3 separate regions of the Homo sapiens genome follow, and regions 1 and 3 are each linked to region 2. The links come from fine-mapping of genetic effects on gene expression. A gene starts in region 2. Each other region holds a variant in brackets. All regions are shown on one strand. Distances are between the middles of the regions. Region 1 has its middle 32 kb from the start of ACP3. Region 2 holds the start of CPNE4 (copine 4). Region 3 overlaps CPNE4 (copine 4).

Region 1 (7,266 bases), 250 kb after region 2:
TAATTTTTAAAAGGCAATACAAAATGAACACATTTAGAAGTGAGAAAAATATACATGCACATAAAGGGAATTTTAAAAGATTATAAAAACTGGATGAAATAGATTATTTTAATATAAATTACAAGTTTATACTAAATGTAAGTTAATTTACCAAAAATGACAGCAAAAGAGATGGACAAAACCAAGGACACAAAATACTACAAAGAAACTGAGAAAGTGATCAAATGGTTACCCTTTTAAAAACACTAAATTCAGACAATTTCACAGAGGGCTTCAATCAACTTCGGTCAAATCTACAAGGAACAAAGCTTGCCAGTGTTATTAAAATAGTTCCAAAGCATAAGGGAAAAAGGCTATTCAATCAGTATTTACAAAACCAGTATAACTTTGACACCAAAATCTGAAAATAATAACACAGAAAACTATAGACCAATATTTTATGAACACTATTTAAAAATCCAAAATAAAATAATGGAAAAAGAAAACATCTATTAAAAAAAATGCAAAATGATCAAGGATTCAATGAAGAAATTTAAAAATTCAACATATTAAAAGATCAAAGGAATGTCAACCTAAAGGAAAAAATTGAGGCCAACTTAACGTAAGTAGAGATTTTATTTGGACCAAGTTTGAAGACTGCAACTTGTGAACATAGATTTAAGTTGCCCTGAATATATGCTCTGATTAGCTACAGTTACAAGTAGGTTTCTAAAGAAAAAGAAGAAGCAGTTCCTAAGTTGCTTACCAAGTATTTTATATTAAAATCACATAAGCTACTGATAGGCTATACATTGTTCTTCATATCAAAAATTCCAGGAACATGAAAGTAATGGGTGAGGCAGGTAGTCAGGAACAAAATGCCTTCCTTTTTTTTTTTTTTCCCCCACTTTTTAAAAGGCAAGGTCTTGCTATATTGCCCAGGCTGGTCTCCAACTCCTGGGCTCAAGTGATCCTCTTCTGCCTCAGTCTCCAGAGTAGCTGAGACTATAGGCATACACCACCATGCTTGGCTAATTTAAAAAAAAAAAAATTTAGGAACAGGGTCTTGCTATGTTGCCCAGGCTGGCCTCCAAATCTTGGGCTCAATCAATCCTCCTGGCTTGACCTACCAAAGCGCCAGTATTATGGGCATGAGCTGATGTGCCCACCTCTGTACTCTTTATTTATCATCATACAAAATTAATACTTGAATACACACACAACTTCAAATCTCCTCCATCCCCCTCCCAGTTTTCAGCTCCCTTTCTTAGCTAATTTTTCCCAAAGAGTTCTTGGTGGTTACTACTTTTACATCTTCAGCTCCCACTCCTTTTTCAATCAGTTGTGATTGTACTTCCATCTCCACCACTCCACAGGCACTGTTCCCATCAGACTCAACACGACCTCATCTTGCCAAATCCAGTGGTCACTTCTCTGTCTCTGTCTTTCTTCAGCAAACACTCAGGGCTTTCAAAAAAGCTGACCACTTCCTCATTGAAATACTCTCTCCACCAAGCTTCTGCAACACTACACTCTCCTGTTTCCCTTCTAAGTTCTGCCTTCATGTTTTCAGGCCCCTCCTCCTCTGTTTCAGCTCTAAATACCAGAGGACCAGAGAGCTGTGTTCCTGTTCCTTTTCTTTGTAATTTTTAAGTCATGTTACCAAACCAAACCAGGGTCTGCTCACTCAGTGCAGTAAAGCCAAACATCTACACCAAGGTTTTGCAGCAGGGGGGAAAAGAAGGCATTTATCTGCAGGGCACCAAGCAAGGAGAATCAGGCAGCTCACACTGTAAGAGCCAACCTTCGCAATAGCTTACAAGCAAGAGTTTTTAAAAGCAGGGATAAATTTCAGGGAAGTAGAAGTTACAGGCAGAATTTTAAGGCATATGTGGAGGTTATATATTGATTTGGCCTAAAAAGACAGTATATATTGAAGCAGGAACTTACAGGTCATTGGTGGATTCGAGGATTTTCTGATTCGCAATTGGTTAAGGAAGGGAAACTTTGTCTAAAAACTTGGGATCAGCAGAAAGGAATGTTAGGTCTGGCCCATGGGTATGACGTCCTTTAGGCTCCTAAGGAAGAAGTTTAGAAAAAAGAACGGCAGTCAGAGTTCAGTTCTCAATCGCCCCTTATCTGAGGTCTACATGCCAGTGGATCCATTTGGCTGGGGTCTGTGTTTCTGAAAAGTAGCTCAGGGACATATGTTGAGATGTTGTCTTTAGTTTCTATAGGGAACCAAACATCTCAGGACTCTAACTACCTTGGCTATTGTTTTCAGCTACTATTATCTTCTTGCTTATCAAGTTGCTTATTTACTTCTCAGGGCTAGTGAGGCGGCTAGTTCACTGCCTAGAATTTCCCCGGAAGGAACTCAATATTTTCCTCTATTTCCATGCTTGGCAAGGGGGGGAGGGGGGCCCTAAGAGGGATCCCTGCTCCGTTTCTGTCATGTGACCTTAGACGAGCAACTTAATCTTTCTGAGCCTTAATTTCCTCAACTATAAAATGAGAGTTAATAATAGTACCTTTCTCATATAATTATATCAAAGTCAAAATAAACATGTAGAGATGAATCCATAAATTTAATATTTTATTTGGGAAGAAAGAATTGCAATTTGGGCCATACATACAGACCTGGTGGTCTTCGGGTATGTCCGAATAGCAAAGAACGGCTTAGCAGTTTTGAAACGAGAAAAGTTCCCTTATTCCCCTCGCAGGGCGTGTGACGGGGGTGTGGCGCGCTTCTTCAGTGCCCCGCTGCTCACACCTCTAGGGGGAGCATACAGACAGACGGTCGGGTTGTGAGGCTCCGACCCCATAGCAGTGTCTAGGGGTTAATGTTTACAGCTGAAGCCCCAGTGGGCCTGTGTTACAGGGTGCTCTTTCAGTTTAGCCGTCCGTAGGCGGCTTGTGCTAGTCAGCTCAATCAGACACCCTGCCTTATCGCAGGGACAGAGGGCTTTCTGTATCATGGGGTTTCTTGCCCTGGTGTACCAGAAGAATCAGATCACACGTAGGCTTGGAGAATGAGTGCAAGGTTTATTGAGTGGAAGTAGCTCTCAGTAGATGGGGGAGCCAGAAGGGAGATGGAATGGAAGGTTGCTTTCCCCTGGAGCCAGGCCGCCCAGCAGCGGGGCTTACCTTATACCGCCCTGGCCAAAGTCCGTGTCCTTCCGCGGGTTGATGGCCTGCCG[C/G]CCTGCTGGCCTACCGGCGTCTGTCAGTATGTTCTTAGGCCAGTGCGTTCCTCTCAACGGCTAGGTGCTTGTGTCTTTTTCCACTGCTGTGATCCTCTCAATGTCCAGCCGCTGGTGTGTCTGCCCACTAGGGTCTCAGGGTTTTTATAGGCACAGGATGGGGGGATGGGGGCATGGTGGGCCAGGGTGGTCTTGGGAAATGTAACATTTGGACCTGAAAACAAATGCCTGTCCTCACCTAGGTCCGTGGGCACAGGCCTGGGGGTGGAGCCCTCGCCAGGGACCCGCCCTTCTCCGCCCAGCACTTCCCTGCCCTATTCCGATATCAGTTTTATAAAAAAGGAGAAATGTTATGTATTCTTCTTTGAGAAAGTTCATTGGCATAAGAAAGAATTTAGGGAGTCAGAAAGCTTCAACTGGTGAATGGTGGCTGTGGGCACAATTAGTGCTAGCCTTTGCAGCACGTTATCTCAGAAGATGAGATAAAACTGGTTTCAGGTTACAACAAGCAGTTTGGGCTTGCAGAGAATTACATTCTTTCAGCAATGTTGTACCCTGCGTGCTTGTTCCCCCTGGCTTCTCAACTCTGTTTTAGTTGTGAGTGACAAGAATGACCCAATTCTTATGATCAACTTTCATGATTGTTATGAGAATTAAACGAATTAACACCTGTAAAGCATTTGAAACAGAACCAGCCAGGTAATGAGTCAGTGCTTCTCAAATTTTAAGGCATATTAGAATCACTTGTGGCTTTTAAAAATCTTGATATCCAGCCCATATACCATAGCAATTAAATTAAAATCTCCAAAAAATTCTCTAATAACTAATTAGGCACAGGGTTTTATTGTTGTTATTTTGTTTTGAGACAGGCTCTTGCCCTATCAGCCAGGCTGGAGTGCAGTGGCATTGTCAGAGGCCTTTGAACCAGAGCAACTCCATCTTGAAAAGGGGCTGGGTAAAATAAGGCTGAGACCTACTGGGCTGCGTTCCCAGGAGATTAGGCATTCTAAGTCACAGGATCAGATAAAAGGTTGGCACAAAGTACAGGTCACAAAGACATGTACATTAATTATATGCACTAACTATAATGCATTATCATGCTAAAAGATATGCCCAGCAGTGCCATGACAGTCTATAAATGCCATGGCAATTTCAAGAAGTTACCCTATATGGTCTAAAAAGGGGAGGAATTGTCAGTTCTAGGAATTGCCCACCCCTTTTCTGGAAAACTCATGAATAATTCGCCCCTCGTTTAGCATATAATCAATAAACATAAAAATCGGCAACCAGCAGCCCTTGGGGCTGCTGTGCCTATGGAGTAGCCATTCTTTTGCTTCTTTACTTTCTCAATAAACTTGTTTTCACTTTATGGATATGCCTCAAATTCTTGCGTGAGATCCAAGAACAGCACAATCATGGCTCACTGCAGCCATCTTGGGTTCAAGCCATCCTCCCACCTCAGCCTCCTGAGTAGCTGGGACTATAGATAGGGGAAAGTCACCACACCCAGCTACCTTTGTTTATTTTTTGTAGAGATGGGGCTTCCACCATGTTGCCCAGGCTGATCTTGAACTTCTGGGCTGAAGCTATCCTCACACCTCAGCCTTCCTAAGTGCTAACATTACAGGCATGAGCTACTGCACGCAGCCTATTTTTTTAATTCTAAGGTAACTTCAGTGTGAGGCTAAGGTTGAGAACCAGGATAGTAAGAGATATAAAAGTATGTCTTAAATGAATAAGATAAACCTGTGTCTCTCTGAAGCTTCATCATCTGTGTCTGACACTTTTGTTGCCATTCACCCAATTTCTGAAGCCCAATGCCTAGGAGTGCCCCTTGATTCTCCCGTTAGCCTTAAATAATGAGGACCAGAAAAATTAAGTATAGAGTTTATAGGAGTCCAAAGCTTGAGGATGGCCACATGGGGGCATAGATTCAAGTTGCCATAAATATACACCCTGATTAGTAGCAGTTACTAGTTGAAGTTTTAAGGAGTAAAAGAAGAGGCAGTTCCTAAGTTGTTTACCAAGAATTTACATTAAAATAACATAAGCTAATGATTGGCTATATATTGTTCTTTGTATCACAAAAACAGGAAGAAAATGGATGTAGCAGCTAGTCAAGAACAAAATACCTTTAAACAATTGTCCCAGACATAGCGGAGAAGGTGACTGAAGTCCCATACTCATGTTTCTCTGAGCCTGATAAATTCTGCATATCTCACATAGCTCAGACTGCTCTGAGCTATTTTCCTTTTTTCCTTTTCTCACCCTTCTCCCTCACATCTCATATCCAATACTAGTATGTATTTTTCTCGTCCATTCACTTCTTTTGACTTCCCCAAATCCACCCTGATCCAAGCTACAATCATCTGTTTCCTGGGCCACTACAGTAGCCTCCTGGCTGTTCTCATTCCCTTTTTTGCTTCTCCATAATTCATTCTTCACAAGCAGCCACAGAATTTTTAATGCATATCACTCCCCTGATTAGAACTCCCCATTTGGCTTCCCATTGCATTTTGAATAAATCCAAACTCCTCACCATGGCCTCAACAAGATCCTGGGTGATTCAACACCTTCCTACCTCTCTGACCTTGTCTGCTCCTGCCCTTTCCCATTTTTACAATTCTTCAGTCACTCTGGCCTTTTTTCTTTCCTCTGAGACCACAATCTCACTCCCTGCCTCAGGGTTTTTACACTTCCTGGGATGCTCTGATGGCTCTCCCCTTTCCTGCATTCAAGTCTCACCTCAAATGTCACCTCATAGAAACCCTCTCTGACCACTCATCTAAAGTATCCCCCACCTCAAGTCACTCACAGTCATGTCACCTTATTTTATTGTCTTCACTGTAGTTCTCACTGTTACAGGACCAATGGGTTTGTATGTCCGCTGTGCAGTATCAGACTGATAGGCTGAGACAACAGGGTTTGCAGCAGAGAAAGAGTTTAATGATTGCAGAGTGGTCAAGTGAAAAGATAGGAGGAGACTCAAATCCATCTCCCCAAGATGTTCTGCGCTGGGGTTTTTAAGGGGATCATGGAGGGCAAGGGCCTAGAAAATTGAGGTCATTAATTGGTCAGGTAAGCGTAATGAAATAATCAGGATGTGGAAATTGCATTCTTTGTTAAGTCAGCTTTTCATGGGGCCTCAGTGAGGTCCCTCAGACCAGTTGACATCAATAGTTTCACTGGTATGCAGGACCTGAAAGAATATCTCAAATGGAAAACAACATTTCACAATGTTTAAGTTGTTATCTACAGAACAGTTAAGTGGTGACAGGTCTGTGTGATTCTGGGGTAACAGGCAGTGAATAACTCTTAGTAGGCAGGTCAGAGAGTAAGCTGACCTCATGATTAATGGTGAATGTGCTGCGATCTTGCTTTATTTTTATTTCTCCCCCTCTTTTCTACTCTGATTAACTTTCTGAAGTCTATAGGGATGGTTTCATCATTATCTGAAATTATCCTGTTTATTTATTTGGTTACTCGTTTACTATCTCTCTCTGCTAAAATATATTTCATTTTAAAAAGAAACTTGTCTATTTTGTTCACTTCAGCATTGTAAGAACCTTGAACAGTGCCCGACACATATAGGCACTCCATAAATATTTTTTTGGATGAATGAATATGAGGCAATAGGCATGGAAATAAAAACCAGGTTTTTTCAACTGAAATTGAAGGAGAAGAGCTCTTTCTTCTTAGGTGAAGCTTAGAGCAGCCTTGGCCCTAGCTTCAATTGGAAAGATACATAGTTTACAAAATTGAAGCCAAACAGGGAGCAAAGAAGAATGGAATAGATGAACGTCAGTGGCAGTTTTATTCCAAGTTCCCACTGATCTTTTCCCTTTCTTTTGTTCAGTAACATGAAGCAAAAAATTATTTTCCTTGCCTAAAATGAATCAGATTAGATTAGATTTCTGTTACTTGCCTCCAAAGGAATCCTGAATACTATAGTGGACAACAGGCTTCAAAGAAAGTTCCAACATTGGAGGCTGAGAAGGGGACTCTGGTCAGGAGCCCATTACCTAGACTGAGACCCCACTGTTCCTCCCATCAATGCCAAGCCAAGAATATAAAAAATGCCCTTCAC
Region 2 (7,266 bases):
TACCTGTCTCATTCTTTGTTCTGGATTCAGACCACTCTGAAAATGTGTGGTATTGATTACACACAACACTGACGGCTCATCTTCAATAAGTTCATCTCTAAATGAAAAGATCCTTTCTTTATGTGGATAAAGGTAACATAATGTTCTAGGGTGTTACATTTCAAAGAATTTTCGAAGTGAAGTCAGAAGAAGGCATAGTGCAAACCTTATAAATGTGTTCAGTATTAATTCCAAAAGATTCAAATACATATGAGAATAAAGATTCCACCATTAACCCATTTTTTTTGGTCTGTGATTGTTTCTTATAGTCAGTATAACCTCAAGGTTTTAAGTCATAATAATGGGCTTGAATAATCTAATTATTTAAAAGAATCAAAGCTTTTTTCTATTGTTTTGGAATATTACATAAAACTTCTCTATAAACAGATAACATCTTTACTTCCTACTAACTGAAATGAGGTATTTTTAATTAGAAATACACAAGCAGATTAAGTATACTTTAGAACAAACACCTTTTAATTAAAACCTCTAAAACCAGAGTCCCCTTAAGACAAACCAATAATTCACCAAAATGTCATGTTGCTACTGGAGACTTGGAGATAAACAGGAAGTCTTTTAATTTCTTTTTACACTTAAGAAACAACTCAGAGCAACTATTTTCAAAGAAATATTTAGGAATTTTAGTAAAGCAACTATCTCAAACTGGGAAGTCACTGTACCGCATCTGTGCCTTCTCCCAGTCAAATATGCTGGGCCTGTGTCTGGGAGAATAAAAATAAGGTTGACCACTCACAGGAAAGGCATAAGTTTGATGGCCATGGGAGTTTTTACTTGTTAACACATAAGTAGAGGTTTGGTTCAATTATAGGCAATCTCTTCTCACACAATCATACAAAACTGCCCAGGATTAAACATCTACTATTGCTATAGACCAATATATCCTTTTATGTAATGTTAATGGAAAAGTCACCTCATTCTGATGTGTTTTGAGTTTGATCCTCTAAAACCATAAGAATCTTCCCATGAGAGATAGTTGAGAAAATGTTGGCCTTTATTAGTATGCACTATTAACACAGGTGTTCTGACTGCATTTTCCAACCCTCCCTCTATTTTATGCACCTCTCTACATGTGAGAACTTTTGACTAACTCTGAGTCCTGACCTGCCAGAGTGACTTTGTCAGTCTCTCTTTAAAAATGGGCAGGTGAATGAGTTCAGCCTAGAAGCAGCAGCTCGGTAAGGGAAATGAAAATATCAGAAGTTATCTAATCACAGCCATAGCCATGCTGAGCTTCATCTTATCTTTTGGTTAATAAAAAGAAATGGGACCTTCCGAAACTTGAAGGGCATCAAATTAAGTTTTTGCTTGCCTCTGGCTTTTTGGGGGATATGCTATGTGGTTTAACCAGCATATACTAACTACAAAAATTGACATGGATTCAAAACACCTGTGTCATAGGACGGTGGGTGTTTGTTTTTTTGTTTTGTTATAAAGCAGAAAATAAAACACAAAGGCCTTTGAGAACAGGGATTGTTAAGGGAATAGAAGAGTATGGAGAAAAGAACACTTTATTTGAAGTTAAGGTAATTGTGTACGCCTGTGTATGTGTGCGCGCGGGGGCGCGCGAATGAGCAGGATTTAGTTTCATTTAAAGATAACATATTAAAGTATCTTGGACAGCTCAAAAGTGCTGTTCAGGAAACAAAACCAAGTGAGCCAAGAAAAACCAGAACAGTGCTTTTAAAATCCCTGGCAAAGCAGCAAGAGGATGAAGAGTTGGTTTTGCATAGTTTTGAACACAGGGTGTAAAGGTGCTGAGGCATCTTTTCCCACAAGTCACTGAAATCCTGTGAGAGTGTGTGAGTGTGTGTGTGTGTCTGTGTGTGTGTGTGTGTGTGTGTAGAGGGAGAGGTTCTCAGATGTCTCTCTTGCAAAGCTTCCCAGAGCACTCTCGCTTCCCTAGCCCCCTCCCGCCTCACTCTGCTCACCTTTCCCCCCTCCACTTCCCAACCACCCACATCAAGCCCTTCATAGATTTGCGCCCCTTGGATCATCTCTGCCGCCTGTGACTTTCCCTGGAGCCTAGCAGGTTCTGGGGCTGAAAGGCAATCCGCCAAGGCGCCCTGGGGCGCCGTCAGATTTGGAACATAGAATGGGAAATAGGGCCTTAAAGCCCACCTACTCCAAGATGAAGGAGGAGCATTTTTCATCAGGGTTTAGCCTGCTCCTCACCGGATGGTAATCAGCACTCGCTTGACTTGGCGTGGACCACCTCCTAATTATCTCCATTGGATTCAGCCCTAACAGTTCTCGTGTGTCTGTGATACCACGCGGGGTCGTGATCTCCTTACTCAGCTGTGGCTTGGTTTCAGTGGTCCCTCCAGTCCCGTCCCCTGTCCCCGTCCCCCTTTCCTTCTGGCTACTTTATTCCATAGAGGAAGAAGCGCTGAAGGACTACGTTGAATCAAAGCACTTGCAAGCCTATTCATTAGTTTTTAACACTGAGAAGAGGCAACTAAAATATTATTAGAACCTCATTGTAAGAAGTGTGGGGGAGGAGGTTGAGAGGCTGAATCCAACCGCAGCCAGGTCAAGCCATTGGAAGGGACTACAATGTCCCACAGCTTTCTCACTGTCAGAGAGGAAGCTGCAACTTCAGCCAGAACTCCCTTCCCCTCCCCTTCCCCGATTTTGAAAACCGTACCCCTTCTTCCGCCTTCGGGACTTCCCTGACCTATCCCTCACCCGTGCCATGCTGTCCCCTCCCCTCCGCGGTCTTTCTCCCCAACTCCATTCGCCCCACCCCACCTGGGCGAGTTGGGTGGATGTCAGAAGGCGAGAGGTAGGGGATGGAAGTCCCTTCAGATTAAAGACGTTGCTTGCTGCTGCTTTTTAAAACAACAACAGCAATGACAAACGTGCAAAGGTGAGCGAGAACCAGTGCATCTCAAAAGTTGGTCTTGCTACGCAGCAGCTCCAACAGACTTTGCAATCACAGCGCCCCAGGAACACAGGAATGAAGAGTTGGCATTTACTTACCTGGGTGTGCCAATCTCGAAGAGTGGAGAGAGAATTCAGCCCGGGACGAGGTCTGTCCCGCCCCCAGGATGCAAAATCCGGCTTTGAAGTGGAGGTGGTTGGTGTGGTAGTTTTGTACTGATGTAAGGGGCGTCGCACCTCCTTCCCCTCTCGTCCTCCGAGGTCAGTTTAGCAACAGCGGCTGGGAAAGGTGCTGAGAGCAGAGTTCGGTCTCTCCGGAAACCCTGACTCCATTCTCGGTGATGGGGGTGGGGGAAGAGGGTGAAAATGTTGGAGATGTCAGGTCGGCTCTCAGTTAACTCGGAGAGTAAAGAGGAGGGTACTGAGAAAAGAGGGAGGGAGTGGAGTGGAGCGAGGGAGGAAGGAAAGGAGGGTGGCAGAAAGAGAAGGGGACGAGCGGGTGGCGGGGAGATGGCAGCTTCTCACAGAGAGATTTCCACCTTCTGACGAATCCCATGCACCCAGCAACCCGGCAAGAGACTGGTTCCGAAACCTCCGCGCGAGCGCCCCCTGGGGGTTGCTGACGGAGACGAGCATTGCCCCGGGAACCCGAGCTCAGGCCCCGCCCAGGCCTTGGCGGCGGCGCTCTCCGTGGTCCTGCCGCGCCCGCAGTCTGGGCTTTCTGCTCAGCTTTGTCGCTCAACTGAGCTCCTGGGGACACTTGATTTAGATCTCCAAGTGCTTGGTCTCCATCTCCACTCTAGGGTGGAGCGGTCGTATCGCGGCGCGGGTGTGGGGGGAATGGGAGTTACACTTTTTGGCACTCACCAAAGAAAACTTCTTAGATGGGTGCTTAACTGTCACCAAAAATGGTAAAGGTGTTGCTAATCTCTGGATCCTTCGTGTCTACAAAACTGTCTGGCGTATGGCAGGAGCCTGGAAATTATTTTTAGTAAGTAATGCATGAGTAAATTAATGGACAAAGAGTATTTTCTTCATCTCATGATGAGTTTCTGAATACATCTACCTCACAAATAAGATAAAGAAATACTTAGGGAGTACTTATGCTTAAAGATAGATATAAATATGCTGTCTTATGTAAGGGGTGACCACTTCCACATGTTTTAAAGCACTTTAGAGAGAAAGTATGGCCTTCCTATTTCAAACTTATTCAAATTCAGACAAATGAACTTATTCAAATACAGGGCATTGTTTCTGATTATGTCTGCTACCATAGACAAACTAGACAACTAAATTCTCTCTGCACATTGGTATTGTCAGACTCACAAATTGGACTTTGGAATTAATGAAGTAAAGTGAATGACGGTCTCTTTCTGACATTGGGATGGTATAGAGTGTGTTACATCTAACGTGGAGGGGAGATGGAAGGTCTTCCTTCTCACCCTATTAAGGGGCTATCTAACAAAGCCTCTCCAACCTGAAGGTTGGAGGAGATATTAGCCAAAATCTTTTCACTAACCATGAAGTTCTCAATTTCAAAGTCCAGAAAAGGAGAACCAATAGGGTAAGGAGGAAGACCCCCTCTTAATTGTTCTATAGAAGTAGACAGAAATATCTTTGATAAACAAAGGGACAACCTTCTGACAGAACACAAATAACATTTTTCTTCTTTCAGTCACCTCTAAAGCCTTTCTGAAATAGGATAACACTAAACATGGACCCTGGAAAGGACCTCAGGGAGCTTCTCTGTACACTGAAACTACCACAGAAATCCTTGGATTTGCTTTGATTGCAAAAACTTGGGTCACATGGCTATGCATAAGTCAATCGTTGTGACCTTTGGATATGGAATTACACTAATGGGCCAGGACTTCCACAATGTCTAGGAGCATGTGATGTCTTCTATAGCACTCCTGGAGCCAGGATGGAGCCCCACCTGATCTACACACATTGCGAGTGAGACACAGGGACAATTCTCCAAGGGATATTCAGGGTCCTCCTACCAGGAAAGGGGAGACGGATGCTAAGCAGGCAAAACCAGTGTATGACTACTAAATATGAAAATGTTAAGTCCAAAAACATTACTTCCAGGTTTTGTTAAGAGGTAGCCTCAGAGATAAACTCAAAATTTGAATTGGATTGAACTTGCAAAGATGAAGGAAGAAGAAGGAAAAGTCATTGTGCATTTCCTTGCATGTTAATTGTATCCTCTAAAATTTAATTTCTATGAAGGCAAGGGATATGTCTGTTTTGTCGTCTTGTTCATAATTATAACCCCAATGCCTAGAAAGGTGTCTACCACCTTCTACATTTATAAAATTAAAAATAATATAAATACCTTAGGGACCATTCAACATAAACTTCTTATATTACAGGTGAGAGAAAAGGAATTAAGATGTGCTGAGCATGTACTATTTCCAGGCAATCTGTTAGGCACTCTACTTACCATCCCATTTAATTTTTACAACAACCTGCCCAAGAAAGTTTTACTATATCTACAAAAATAAATCCAGGGTGTGGGCGGTTGAAATGACCAGACCAGGGAACACAACTAGTTAATGGGAGGATAGGGGTTGTTCATTGAAGCAGTCTCTAAAGGGGCAGCTAGAATAAGTGAACACATGGACCATAGAAAAGAAGTTATAGAGTCAATGCTCATAGGGAAAAAGAAAAACAACATAGTTATCTTTGGCCCTACATGTTAAAAGCATAGATACACAAACTAAACACAATGCCACAACTTGTGACAAATATGGTTTCCTTTGCCAGCAGGCTTCAGCTCCGTAATTAGAAACAAACAGTTGCCTGCATGCCAGTGCGCAGAAAACGTGCAGCTTTATGCCAGAAACTTGGAATTTTTTTCTGAAGGCATGACACTGAAGGTAAATTCAAAGAAGCTTTTTACAGGGCACATAAAGCAGAATTTACTTCCACCTCTTATATGAAATCAACAGCTCATCTGTACAAATGAAGATTTGTAACCAGCTAATAATCCATGTTTTCAATCACTGCCCCCACAGCAAGTTGCCCGCCAGCCACAGTCCCCTCAACAATTGTAACATCAAAATCCCCTTGTCTCTATCACTCACCTCCTCCCAGCTCTCCTTTTAATGGATTCTGAGCTGCTGGGTTCTACAGCCATGGTCAAATTTATCTAAAGCCAAGCCACAAAGTCACTGTGGCCCTGGTGTTCCCAAGTTGCAAAGGAAGCTTCAGCTCTGGGTAGATTCACTCGCCGGGTTTCTGTTTGATAAGATAAGAGGAGGCATCCGCTCAGTGTCTTATGCCAATATGAAAGGCATCTCACCCATCAGTGTGACAAGTGAAATCCTGGAATGAAGCCAGGGAACAAAAGGGAAGAAATGTGGATTCTTACCAATGCAGTTGATACCATTTTTTAAGGGGAGCAGATGATGAAGGGGAAAAACAGGCAGAGAGTCAGTGCCCTGCATCAAAAACCTTGGATCCTTCCCTGAATGAGTCAGGGTGAGCATTTAGTTTTGAAATGGAATTTCTGTTTCCTTTTATTTTCTTTCTTTTTTTTTTTTTTCTGTAAGAACTACTAAAGGAAACTGTTGTAAATAACAGGATATATTTTTGAGGCTGTGGATCATATAAGAACTTTGAATCTCACCCCAGGGCTATTTATAGCTCAAAAATTTGTTCTTTTTTTCTATTTCAAGTGATTTTTGAGAACTGACTGATATGTCTTCCTCTGGTGTTTCTGTATATGCCTGAGGTGTGATGTATTACTGGAAAGCAGAAAGGAACACTCTAAGAAAGCACTTTTTCTAAGATGCTAAGAGTCAAGGGAAAATGAACATACATGTTGCAAGCTGATGCAGGAATTAAATATTCCACTGTCTGTCATTCCTTTTTATGAGAACCCTATACCACCTGTGGTGCCTCTAACATTGGGTAACAACCTGTGCTACGAAAGGGCAGTTTATACTTCTGTCTACCAATAGGTGGCATCAAAATCTCTAGCTTTTCTTTCCTGTATTTTAAAAACCATAGGCAGAGGGCATTTTCTTTCTGAGATTTTACATTTTATCATGAGTGATGTTATAAAGGCCACTAAATAGCTCTGTATAATTTCAGAGCAGATTTTCCTATTGCTCTATTAATGAGGTCTCTCAGTTGTCCCTCTGAGCCTCAGTTTTCTCATTGTAAAAAGAAAGTATTTGGATTGAACTCCAGCTCCAAGATTCTGCTTTTTAACTACATAATATCTTCCCAGACACACCATTTTTCATGCCTATGATAAACCCATTAGCACTCCATTCCTCTGGGCTTAAGGAATATTAGCAAGCAAATATCCCTTGG
Region 3 (7,266 bases), 110 kb before region 2:
ACTAGCACAGAGAAACTTCAGAGGGCCTCTTGCTGCAGAAGGGAACATTGGCTGAATTGATCAAGTCAGTGGACCAGGGCAAGACTGTGGAAGACATTATCAGATGAGTAGGAAATCTGGCAGATGCCTTGTGTATGGCAGCTGAGAATTCTGTGGATTTCTAGTTCTCACTGAATGTGAAAAGAACTCCAGTACAAGAAAACATGCAGTTCCCAGGGTGGGTAGAGAGAGACCAGAGAAACAAGCACCAGATGTAGAATACTCACAGGCAAGAGTAATACTCATGGACAAGCATTTTTGGGTAATTATGTGTCTGTCCCAGTGCTTCCCATAATACGATCAAATTTAATCCTTTCAAGAGTTATGGAAGGTAGCTGTTGATATTGTTTCCATTTTACAAATGAGAAAATTGAGATTCAGAAAATCTAAATAAATTGCTAGATTGCACAACCCAAAAATGGAGGAAGCAGAATTCAGTCAGATTTTTTAAACTCAAAAGTGCAGGATTTTGTGTATAATGTTATTCTTCCTCCCCTTACATACCTCAAGATCTAGGTTCATTTTACAGTTCAGTTTGAGTCCCTTAATGCTGGAAGTCCCAGAATGTGATATCACGCTCATTTAGACACAAAATATTTATTTAATACTTCGAGTATGTGCTGAGAACCATGGTAGGTACTGGCAGATACAAAGATGAAAAGACAAGGTTTCTATCTTCATGGAGTTTCCAGGCTGATGGAGAAATGAACAGGCAAACAAATATTTAGAAAAGATTAAGTTTGCTTGTTCTCTGCCATATTTCCATTAAAATAGCCATAGACAGACTCAGAAGCTGACAATCATACCGGAAAGGAAAAAACAAATAACAAATAAGCAAAAAAAACCACACGTGGAGTTTCCTCTGGCTGTTTTCTACAGAGCTGTGTGCTAGGGAACTGTTATTCTATGAGGTGCTAATAGATAATCTTAAAAGGAACAATGGTAGACTTTATAACATAAAACAGTTTTTTTGTAACAGGACATTTTAGAGCCATTACTATGTTAATTTGCACTGTGAATCTCCAAAAAGGAGATATGGTGTATAATATTTCCCAAAATTATTTAATCACAAAAACACATTAGAAGACACATGAAACACATTAGAAGACAAATGATTAACAGAGAAGAAAAAGCATTTTTAAAATGCTAGAGGCTAAAGAATAACAGGTAGAGGCATATTGCATTTGGGAATATTTTATTTACTATGAAAAGTGTTGTAGGGAGCCGAAGTGAGAATGCCCAGGAAACAGTGCAGTGTAGGAGGTGCTGTCTTTCATGTACTACACTGGGTGCTGAGCTTGTGGTTAAGTCAGAGTTCCAGCTCTAGCCTGGAAGGTCTACTCTAAATAAATGCCTGCTGGATTCAGCAACTTAAGTCAGGTATATCAAGGTGACCTTCAGATAGTCAACTGAGAAGTAGCAAATGCTAGCACTAAGTGAATAGTGAAGAGGATTGATGAGACTCCACTTAATCTGTCCACTGGTAAATGCCAGCTGGATAGATTTCTTTCCAATCCTGAATGAGTAAATTAGAAATAACAACAGCAACATGCAGCCTAAGAAAAGGATGGGGAATAACTAGATCGTGGTCAATTCATAAGATGGAATGCCATATAGCAATGAAAATGGAGGACAGTTTGATACACGTGCCAATATGGATAAATCTAGACATAATGTTAAACAAAATAGGCTAAATACAAAACAGTACATGCTGTATGATCCCAATTTTGTGAAGTTGAAAACCAGGCCAAATGATAAAGGCAGAACAATGGTTACCTTTTGTGAATGCAATGATGGGAGGGATACAAGAAGGCTTCTGGAGTGCAGAAATAAACTACATCTTGATTTAGGAGGGTTTGCTTTGTAAAATTCACCCAGCTGTATATTTACAATGTGTGCACTATTCTGTATGTTTGTTGTACTCAGATAAAATTTTACTTAAAAAGTAAATAATAGGTGGCAGAAATAGCGTCAACCTATATAATATGTTATTGATCATGAAGAGGTAAAATTCTCTTACTAAAGGACCAACACCCTTTTAGATTATCTTTAACATCGAACTAGGTGATACTTATAAAGAAAACTATAATAAGCAAGTGAATCAGTGAATATATGAATTTTTTAAAATAGACAAAATTTAATTAAAAGAAAGCAGTAATAGAGATAAGGCAAAAGCTAAGGAAACAAACCTCAAATGAGTCAGAGTCACTTCTCTCATTCTCCCCAGCCTGGATCCATTGTAATTTATTCCTCATTGCAGTCAGCAGGTGTGAGTTGCTTAGGGATGTTTGGCAAATTGTTAAACTCAAATCTGATCAGGTCACTCCGCTGCCCAACATCCTTCTGTGGATTCATAAATGCTGCAGGCCAAAGCCTACATTTCTTAGCCTAGAATCACTGATTTTTCCTACCTTTATTGATCAGGCCCACTATTCTCCAGACACTGTAAATTGCTCTATTCTCATTTTCCTTCTCGTACTTTCAAGTCCTAGAAGGCCTATGGAATTATATGTAGATTTATTAACATGAAAACATTTTTACTCGTTTATTTCTCTTCCTGGCCCAATTTTAATCCCTTGACAAAATTTTCACGACCTCCCCCTTACCTTTGTTAGTCACTCCTTAATTTGTGTTCCTACAGTTCTGGTTTAGCTTTCTCTCACACTAATTATCACTTACATGCTATAGCTATTAGTTTACATGTCTGCAAAGTCCTAGTGGCTAAGGATCAAGGACTGTTTGACAAATATTCAAGGCAGGACAGACTGGAAGTGGAGCCTCCTAAATCAACTGATGACAGATATCTTGGGTGTGGGGGTATTTTAAAGTCAGTGGTTATTATTTTGAAATTTTCTATAATAAAAACATTTTAAATACAAAAAAAAAAATCAGTGGCTTCAGATGCTGATAAGAAAAAAAATCTCCGGAACCAGGAACTAGGCCCTTAAAATGTCAGTTGACCTAGAAATATAACAAATATGATCTATGGTGTCATCTCAGAACCAAATGTTCTG[A/G]AACAAATGTTCATCATTTGTTTGTCAAATCTCAGAACCAAATGTTCATGGGTGTAAGACTCCAAGCATTTCATCTAGAAGGGCACTGCTCCTCGATTCTCCTTCCTCCCTCTCCGCAAATTGAGCTTGTCACTGATACTGCCTCAAAGACAGATTTACATGGTAAATGGCTGAAGCTAAAGAAGATGTCTGATGGTCTGGTATCCTTACAGTGGTATGGCATAACCAGAAGTTAAGCTGTTGAGCAGAACAAAGGCCTCCTGTCCACACCTGATGGGCTGACAACATTGCTCCCACACAGTTGACACTTACTGGGTGGCACCAAAGGGTGGGTGACAAGAGTGACAACTTTGCCTCTGCATCTCAGAAACTCACTTCCCCCAAGAAGAAATGATGTCACTTCTGGGCAAAAAGCACCAAACTATTCCTACTTCCACCACCAACTGGATTAGAACACCAGAGTACGTTCTTTAACTCTCAGGTCTCTCAGACTCCAGTCTTAGTGTTTGTCTATTTCACTGGAGGTGAACAGTCCAAGTAGCAAATAAGTTTCACAGATAACTGGAAAGAGATGTTCATAGTCATAGATACTCTCTCTTTATCCCTAAGACCCCTAAAATTCAACTTATTGATTACCTAGCGCCTACCATATGCCCAATACTTGATCGTGTGCCATGAGGAGCTCTGAAATAACAAAACGTGGTCACTGCCTTTGAAAAACTTTCAGAGTGATCAAGTACATGAAATATTTATTCAAGGAAGGAACTAGAGTATGATATGTAAATGTATAGGCTTTTTTAATCAGATATCCTGAGTTCATTTTCTACCTCCATGGTTTACTAACCATAATGATAGGCAAGGTGTACTTTGGTTTCCTCATCTGCAGAATAGAACTAATAACAGGATTCACCTTAGCACTGTTGTGAGGATTCAGTGAGCAACAATGCAGATATAGAGCATAGAGTAAGTGCTAAACAATCATTATGTTACTAGGGTTAATATAAAAGAGAGTTCTGCAAGTAGATACATGATGAATCGTCAAAGTAATTAGCAAAGACCAAGTCAGTGATCACAAAGCCCAGAGAAGATAGACATGCTTTGGTCCAAACTAGAGAGAAGAGAGAAGAGAGGTAATATTTATCAAGCAGGCTCTTTTTGATATAATTTCAACTTTTATTTTAGATTCAGGGGGCACATGTGCAGGTCTGTTACCGGGGCATATTGTATGATGCTAAGGTTCGGAGTGTGATGGATCTCATCACCCACCCACATTCTGAGCATAGTACTTAATAGTCAGTTATTCAACCCTTGCCCCCAACTAGTAGTCTCCAGTTTCTATTGTTGCCATCTTTACGTACATGAGTACCCAGTGTTTACCTTCCATTTACAAGTGAGAACATGTGGTATAAGGTTTTCTGTTCCTACATTAATTCACTCAGGATAATGGCCTCCAGCTGCATTCATGTTGCTACAAAGGATATGATTTTGTTCTTTTATATGGCTGTGTAGTATTCCATGGTGTATATGTACCACACTTTCTTTATCCAATCCGCTGTTGATGGGCACCTAGGTTGATTCCATGCCTTCGCTATTGTGAAGAACACAAGCAGCCTTCTTCATGCCAGAACTGGTTTAGTGGCTTTACACAGAATCATCACTACCTCATCCATAAACTAAGAGAGACAGGTCTTAAGCTAAAGCCAAGAGCCTGATCTAAATTTGGAGAGGCTAAGAAAAGAAGACAGGAAATGCCCATCTGTATGACCAGTTATCAAAGAATGGTGAAAACATGGAAACAGCATGCTGCATCTGGAGGGCATGAGATGCTCAAATGGATGAGTATCATTTGGGTGCTACATAACATATGGTTGAAAGTGCTTTGGAAATTCACGGGCATTAATTTGTTAAACATTCTCTAGTTGTGACATAACTTCTCTGTTCCTCTGTTTTCTTATTCTAAAAAGAAAGATAGTAATAGCTACCTCCCAAGACTATTGTGAGAATTAGAGGAGAGAATAGACATAAAAGAAGCAAGCATAATAACAAATATAGTGTATCCTCTAAAAGTGTTATGTCTGTTTCTATGTCTCCTGTCCTGTGGTCTAGAATATATTAATAGCAAATGCCCAAGTGCCCACACTTAAAGCTCAGATAATTTGAAAGAACTATGATTTAAAGATAAATAATTATTATAGATCAAGACTGTAAATTAAAATGGTTCATGTTAAAAGTTGTTTGTATATTTTGGTTTGGGCCAAAACCTTTAAAACAAATAGGTTTAATTATAAGTTGGACCAGTTCATTGAACATGTGGGACTCTTTGGCAAGTTCTGTAAAGAAATTAGCTCATGGGAGGTTTAAAAATGAATTAACTTTATTTTTACTTGAAAGTCAGAGTTTAGTTCAATGAAAAAGCCTGCTACAAATAACTTTTGCTTTATCGTAGTCCTCTTTTGTGCTGATAGTATTACCAAAGAAACAGAGGCAAAAATGTGTGTTTGTGTGTATGTATGTATAAAATATTGTCACCAAACATTCTATCTGCTCCCTCAGGACTCTTGCACTGTGCAGAGAGATCTCACTAGTTCTGAGAATGTGGAGCAGGGACTATAAGGCCTGTGAGAGGCAGGGGATGTGCAGAAAATCCAACAGAACTGGCTGGGCGCAGTGGCTCACGCCTGTATTTCCAGCACTTTGGGAGGCCAAGGTGGGTGGGTCACTTGAGGTCAGGAGTTTGAGACCAGCCTGGCCAATATGGTGAAATCCTGTCTCTACTAAAAATACAAAAATTAGCTGGGCATGGTGATGCATGCCTATAGTACCACCTACTTGGGAGGCCAAGGCAGGAGAATCACTTGAGCCTGAGAGGTGGAGGCTGCAGTGAGCCGAGATTATGCCACTGCATTCCAGCCTGGGTGACAGAGCTAGACTCCGTCTCAAAAAAAAAAAAAAAAAAAAAAAAATTAAAAAAAAATAGAAAAAAAAATCCAACAGAACCAAAGAGGGGTCTGGGGTAAAAGATGCCTCATGTGGGCTAGTGGCTCATGTCAGCTAAGCCCCAGGCCCTAAGTAAAATGACTCCCATACCACCCCAAGGTTTTCTTTCTAATCCTCCTCTCTCCACCAAAAGTAAGACCCAGAATGAGAGACTAAAGGGACCAAGGGGCCAGTGGCTGCCTTATTCTTCTCTGAATCCAAAAGACCAAAGGGACCCTCCTGACTCTTACGTGGCCCAGCTTAATTCAACAGAACAGGAGACTCAAGAGAGATTTTGGTCAGTGGTTCACCTTGTGATAGTGGCTACTTGCAGGGTCTTCCAGACATTACGTGTCCCCTGGGGACTCATCAAGGACAGTGAAAGAACAAAAGTCCTGTACTCTTCTCATCAGAAGTATAGCTAACGATAGCCACATGACATATCTTGTCTCCCTTACAGCTGCTAAGTCCTTATTTGTTTCCTTCCCTGGATAGGTATTCATCTTCATCCCCCATCCCAACTTCCAACCTTATCAGTGAAGAAGGAGTGGGAGGGATAAGGCAAGAGAAGCAGAAACTGAGTCATACCACTCAATTCAGCCGTGAACTTAGCTCAAGCACTTCACCAAATATCATAGACATCATCATAGAAATGATTTAATGTAAATCACAAAAATTACCAAACAGGAGAGTGAAAGGATCTAGAATGTAAAGAAAATACTAAATTATCTTGAAATGTGTATAGCAGTGGTTCCAAAACTTTGCTGCACCCAGGAATCACTTGGAGATCTTTTAAAAAAAATGCTGGCACCTGTGTTTTATCTCAGATATTCTAATTTAAATAGAGTAAGGCTTGAATGTTGATATTTTTAAAAATTCCTTAGGCTATTCTAATATGCATCAAAATTTGAAAACCACTAGTATAGAGGTGTGTCTAGACCAGTAATAGTATTTTCAGTCCCTAGAAAGGATGTAATAGAAACAATGGTGACATAAACTATACTTTTTGGCTATAAAGGAAATTAAACCCCTAAACTAATCAGTGTAAACGTGAGTGTTATCAACCAGCTGATGGAATGACTTGGTGACTTATATGTCCCTGGGGCTCAAACAGCAGGATCACAAATGCAACATGCTCTCTGTTCTCCTTCAGCTCCCACCTCTTCTTTGGTTTTTCCAAATGGTACTGTAACCTTGTTAGTAGCAACCTTGAAGCACAGCTTAAGTCAGGACAGAT

What was found.
Region 1: its variant is fine-mapped to the expression of CPNE4 in lung (TOPMed, PIP above 0.99). The same link has a PIP of 0.9 or more in testis.
Region 3: its variant is fine-mapped to the expression of CPNE4 in adrenal gland (GTEx, PIP above 0.99).

What each region holds. Positions count from the first base shown.
Region 1 is chr3:132,282,114-132,289,379 of GRCh38, forward strand. No RefSeq gene overlaps it. Among named protein-coding and RNA genes, the nearest start is that of ACP3, 32 kb to the right of the region's middle. The variant C/G (reference allele first, on the strand shown) is at 3,180.
Region 2 is chr3:132,031,528-132,038,793 of GRCh38, forward strand. It overlaps CPNE4 (copine 4), which reads right to left and starts at 3,487. Exons shown (of 16, transcript NM_130808.3): 1 at 3,040-3,487. RefSeq lists an enhancer at 3,067-3,236 and a silencer at 3,612-3,711.
Region 3 is chr3:131,917,714-131,924,979 of GRCh38, forward strand. All of the region lies in intron 1 of CPNE4 (copine 4), which reads right to left. Among named protein-coding and RNA genes, the nearest start is that of MIR5704, 65 kb to the right of the region's middle. The variant A/G (reference allele first, on the strand shown) is at 3,054.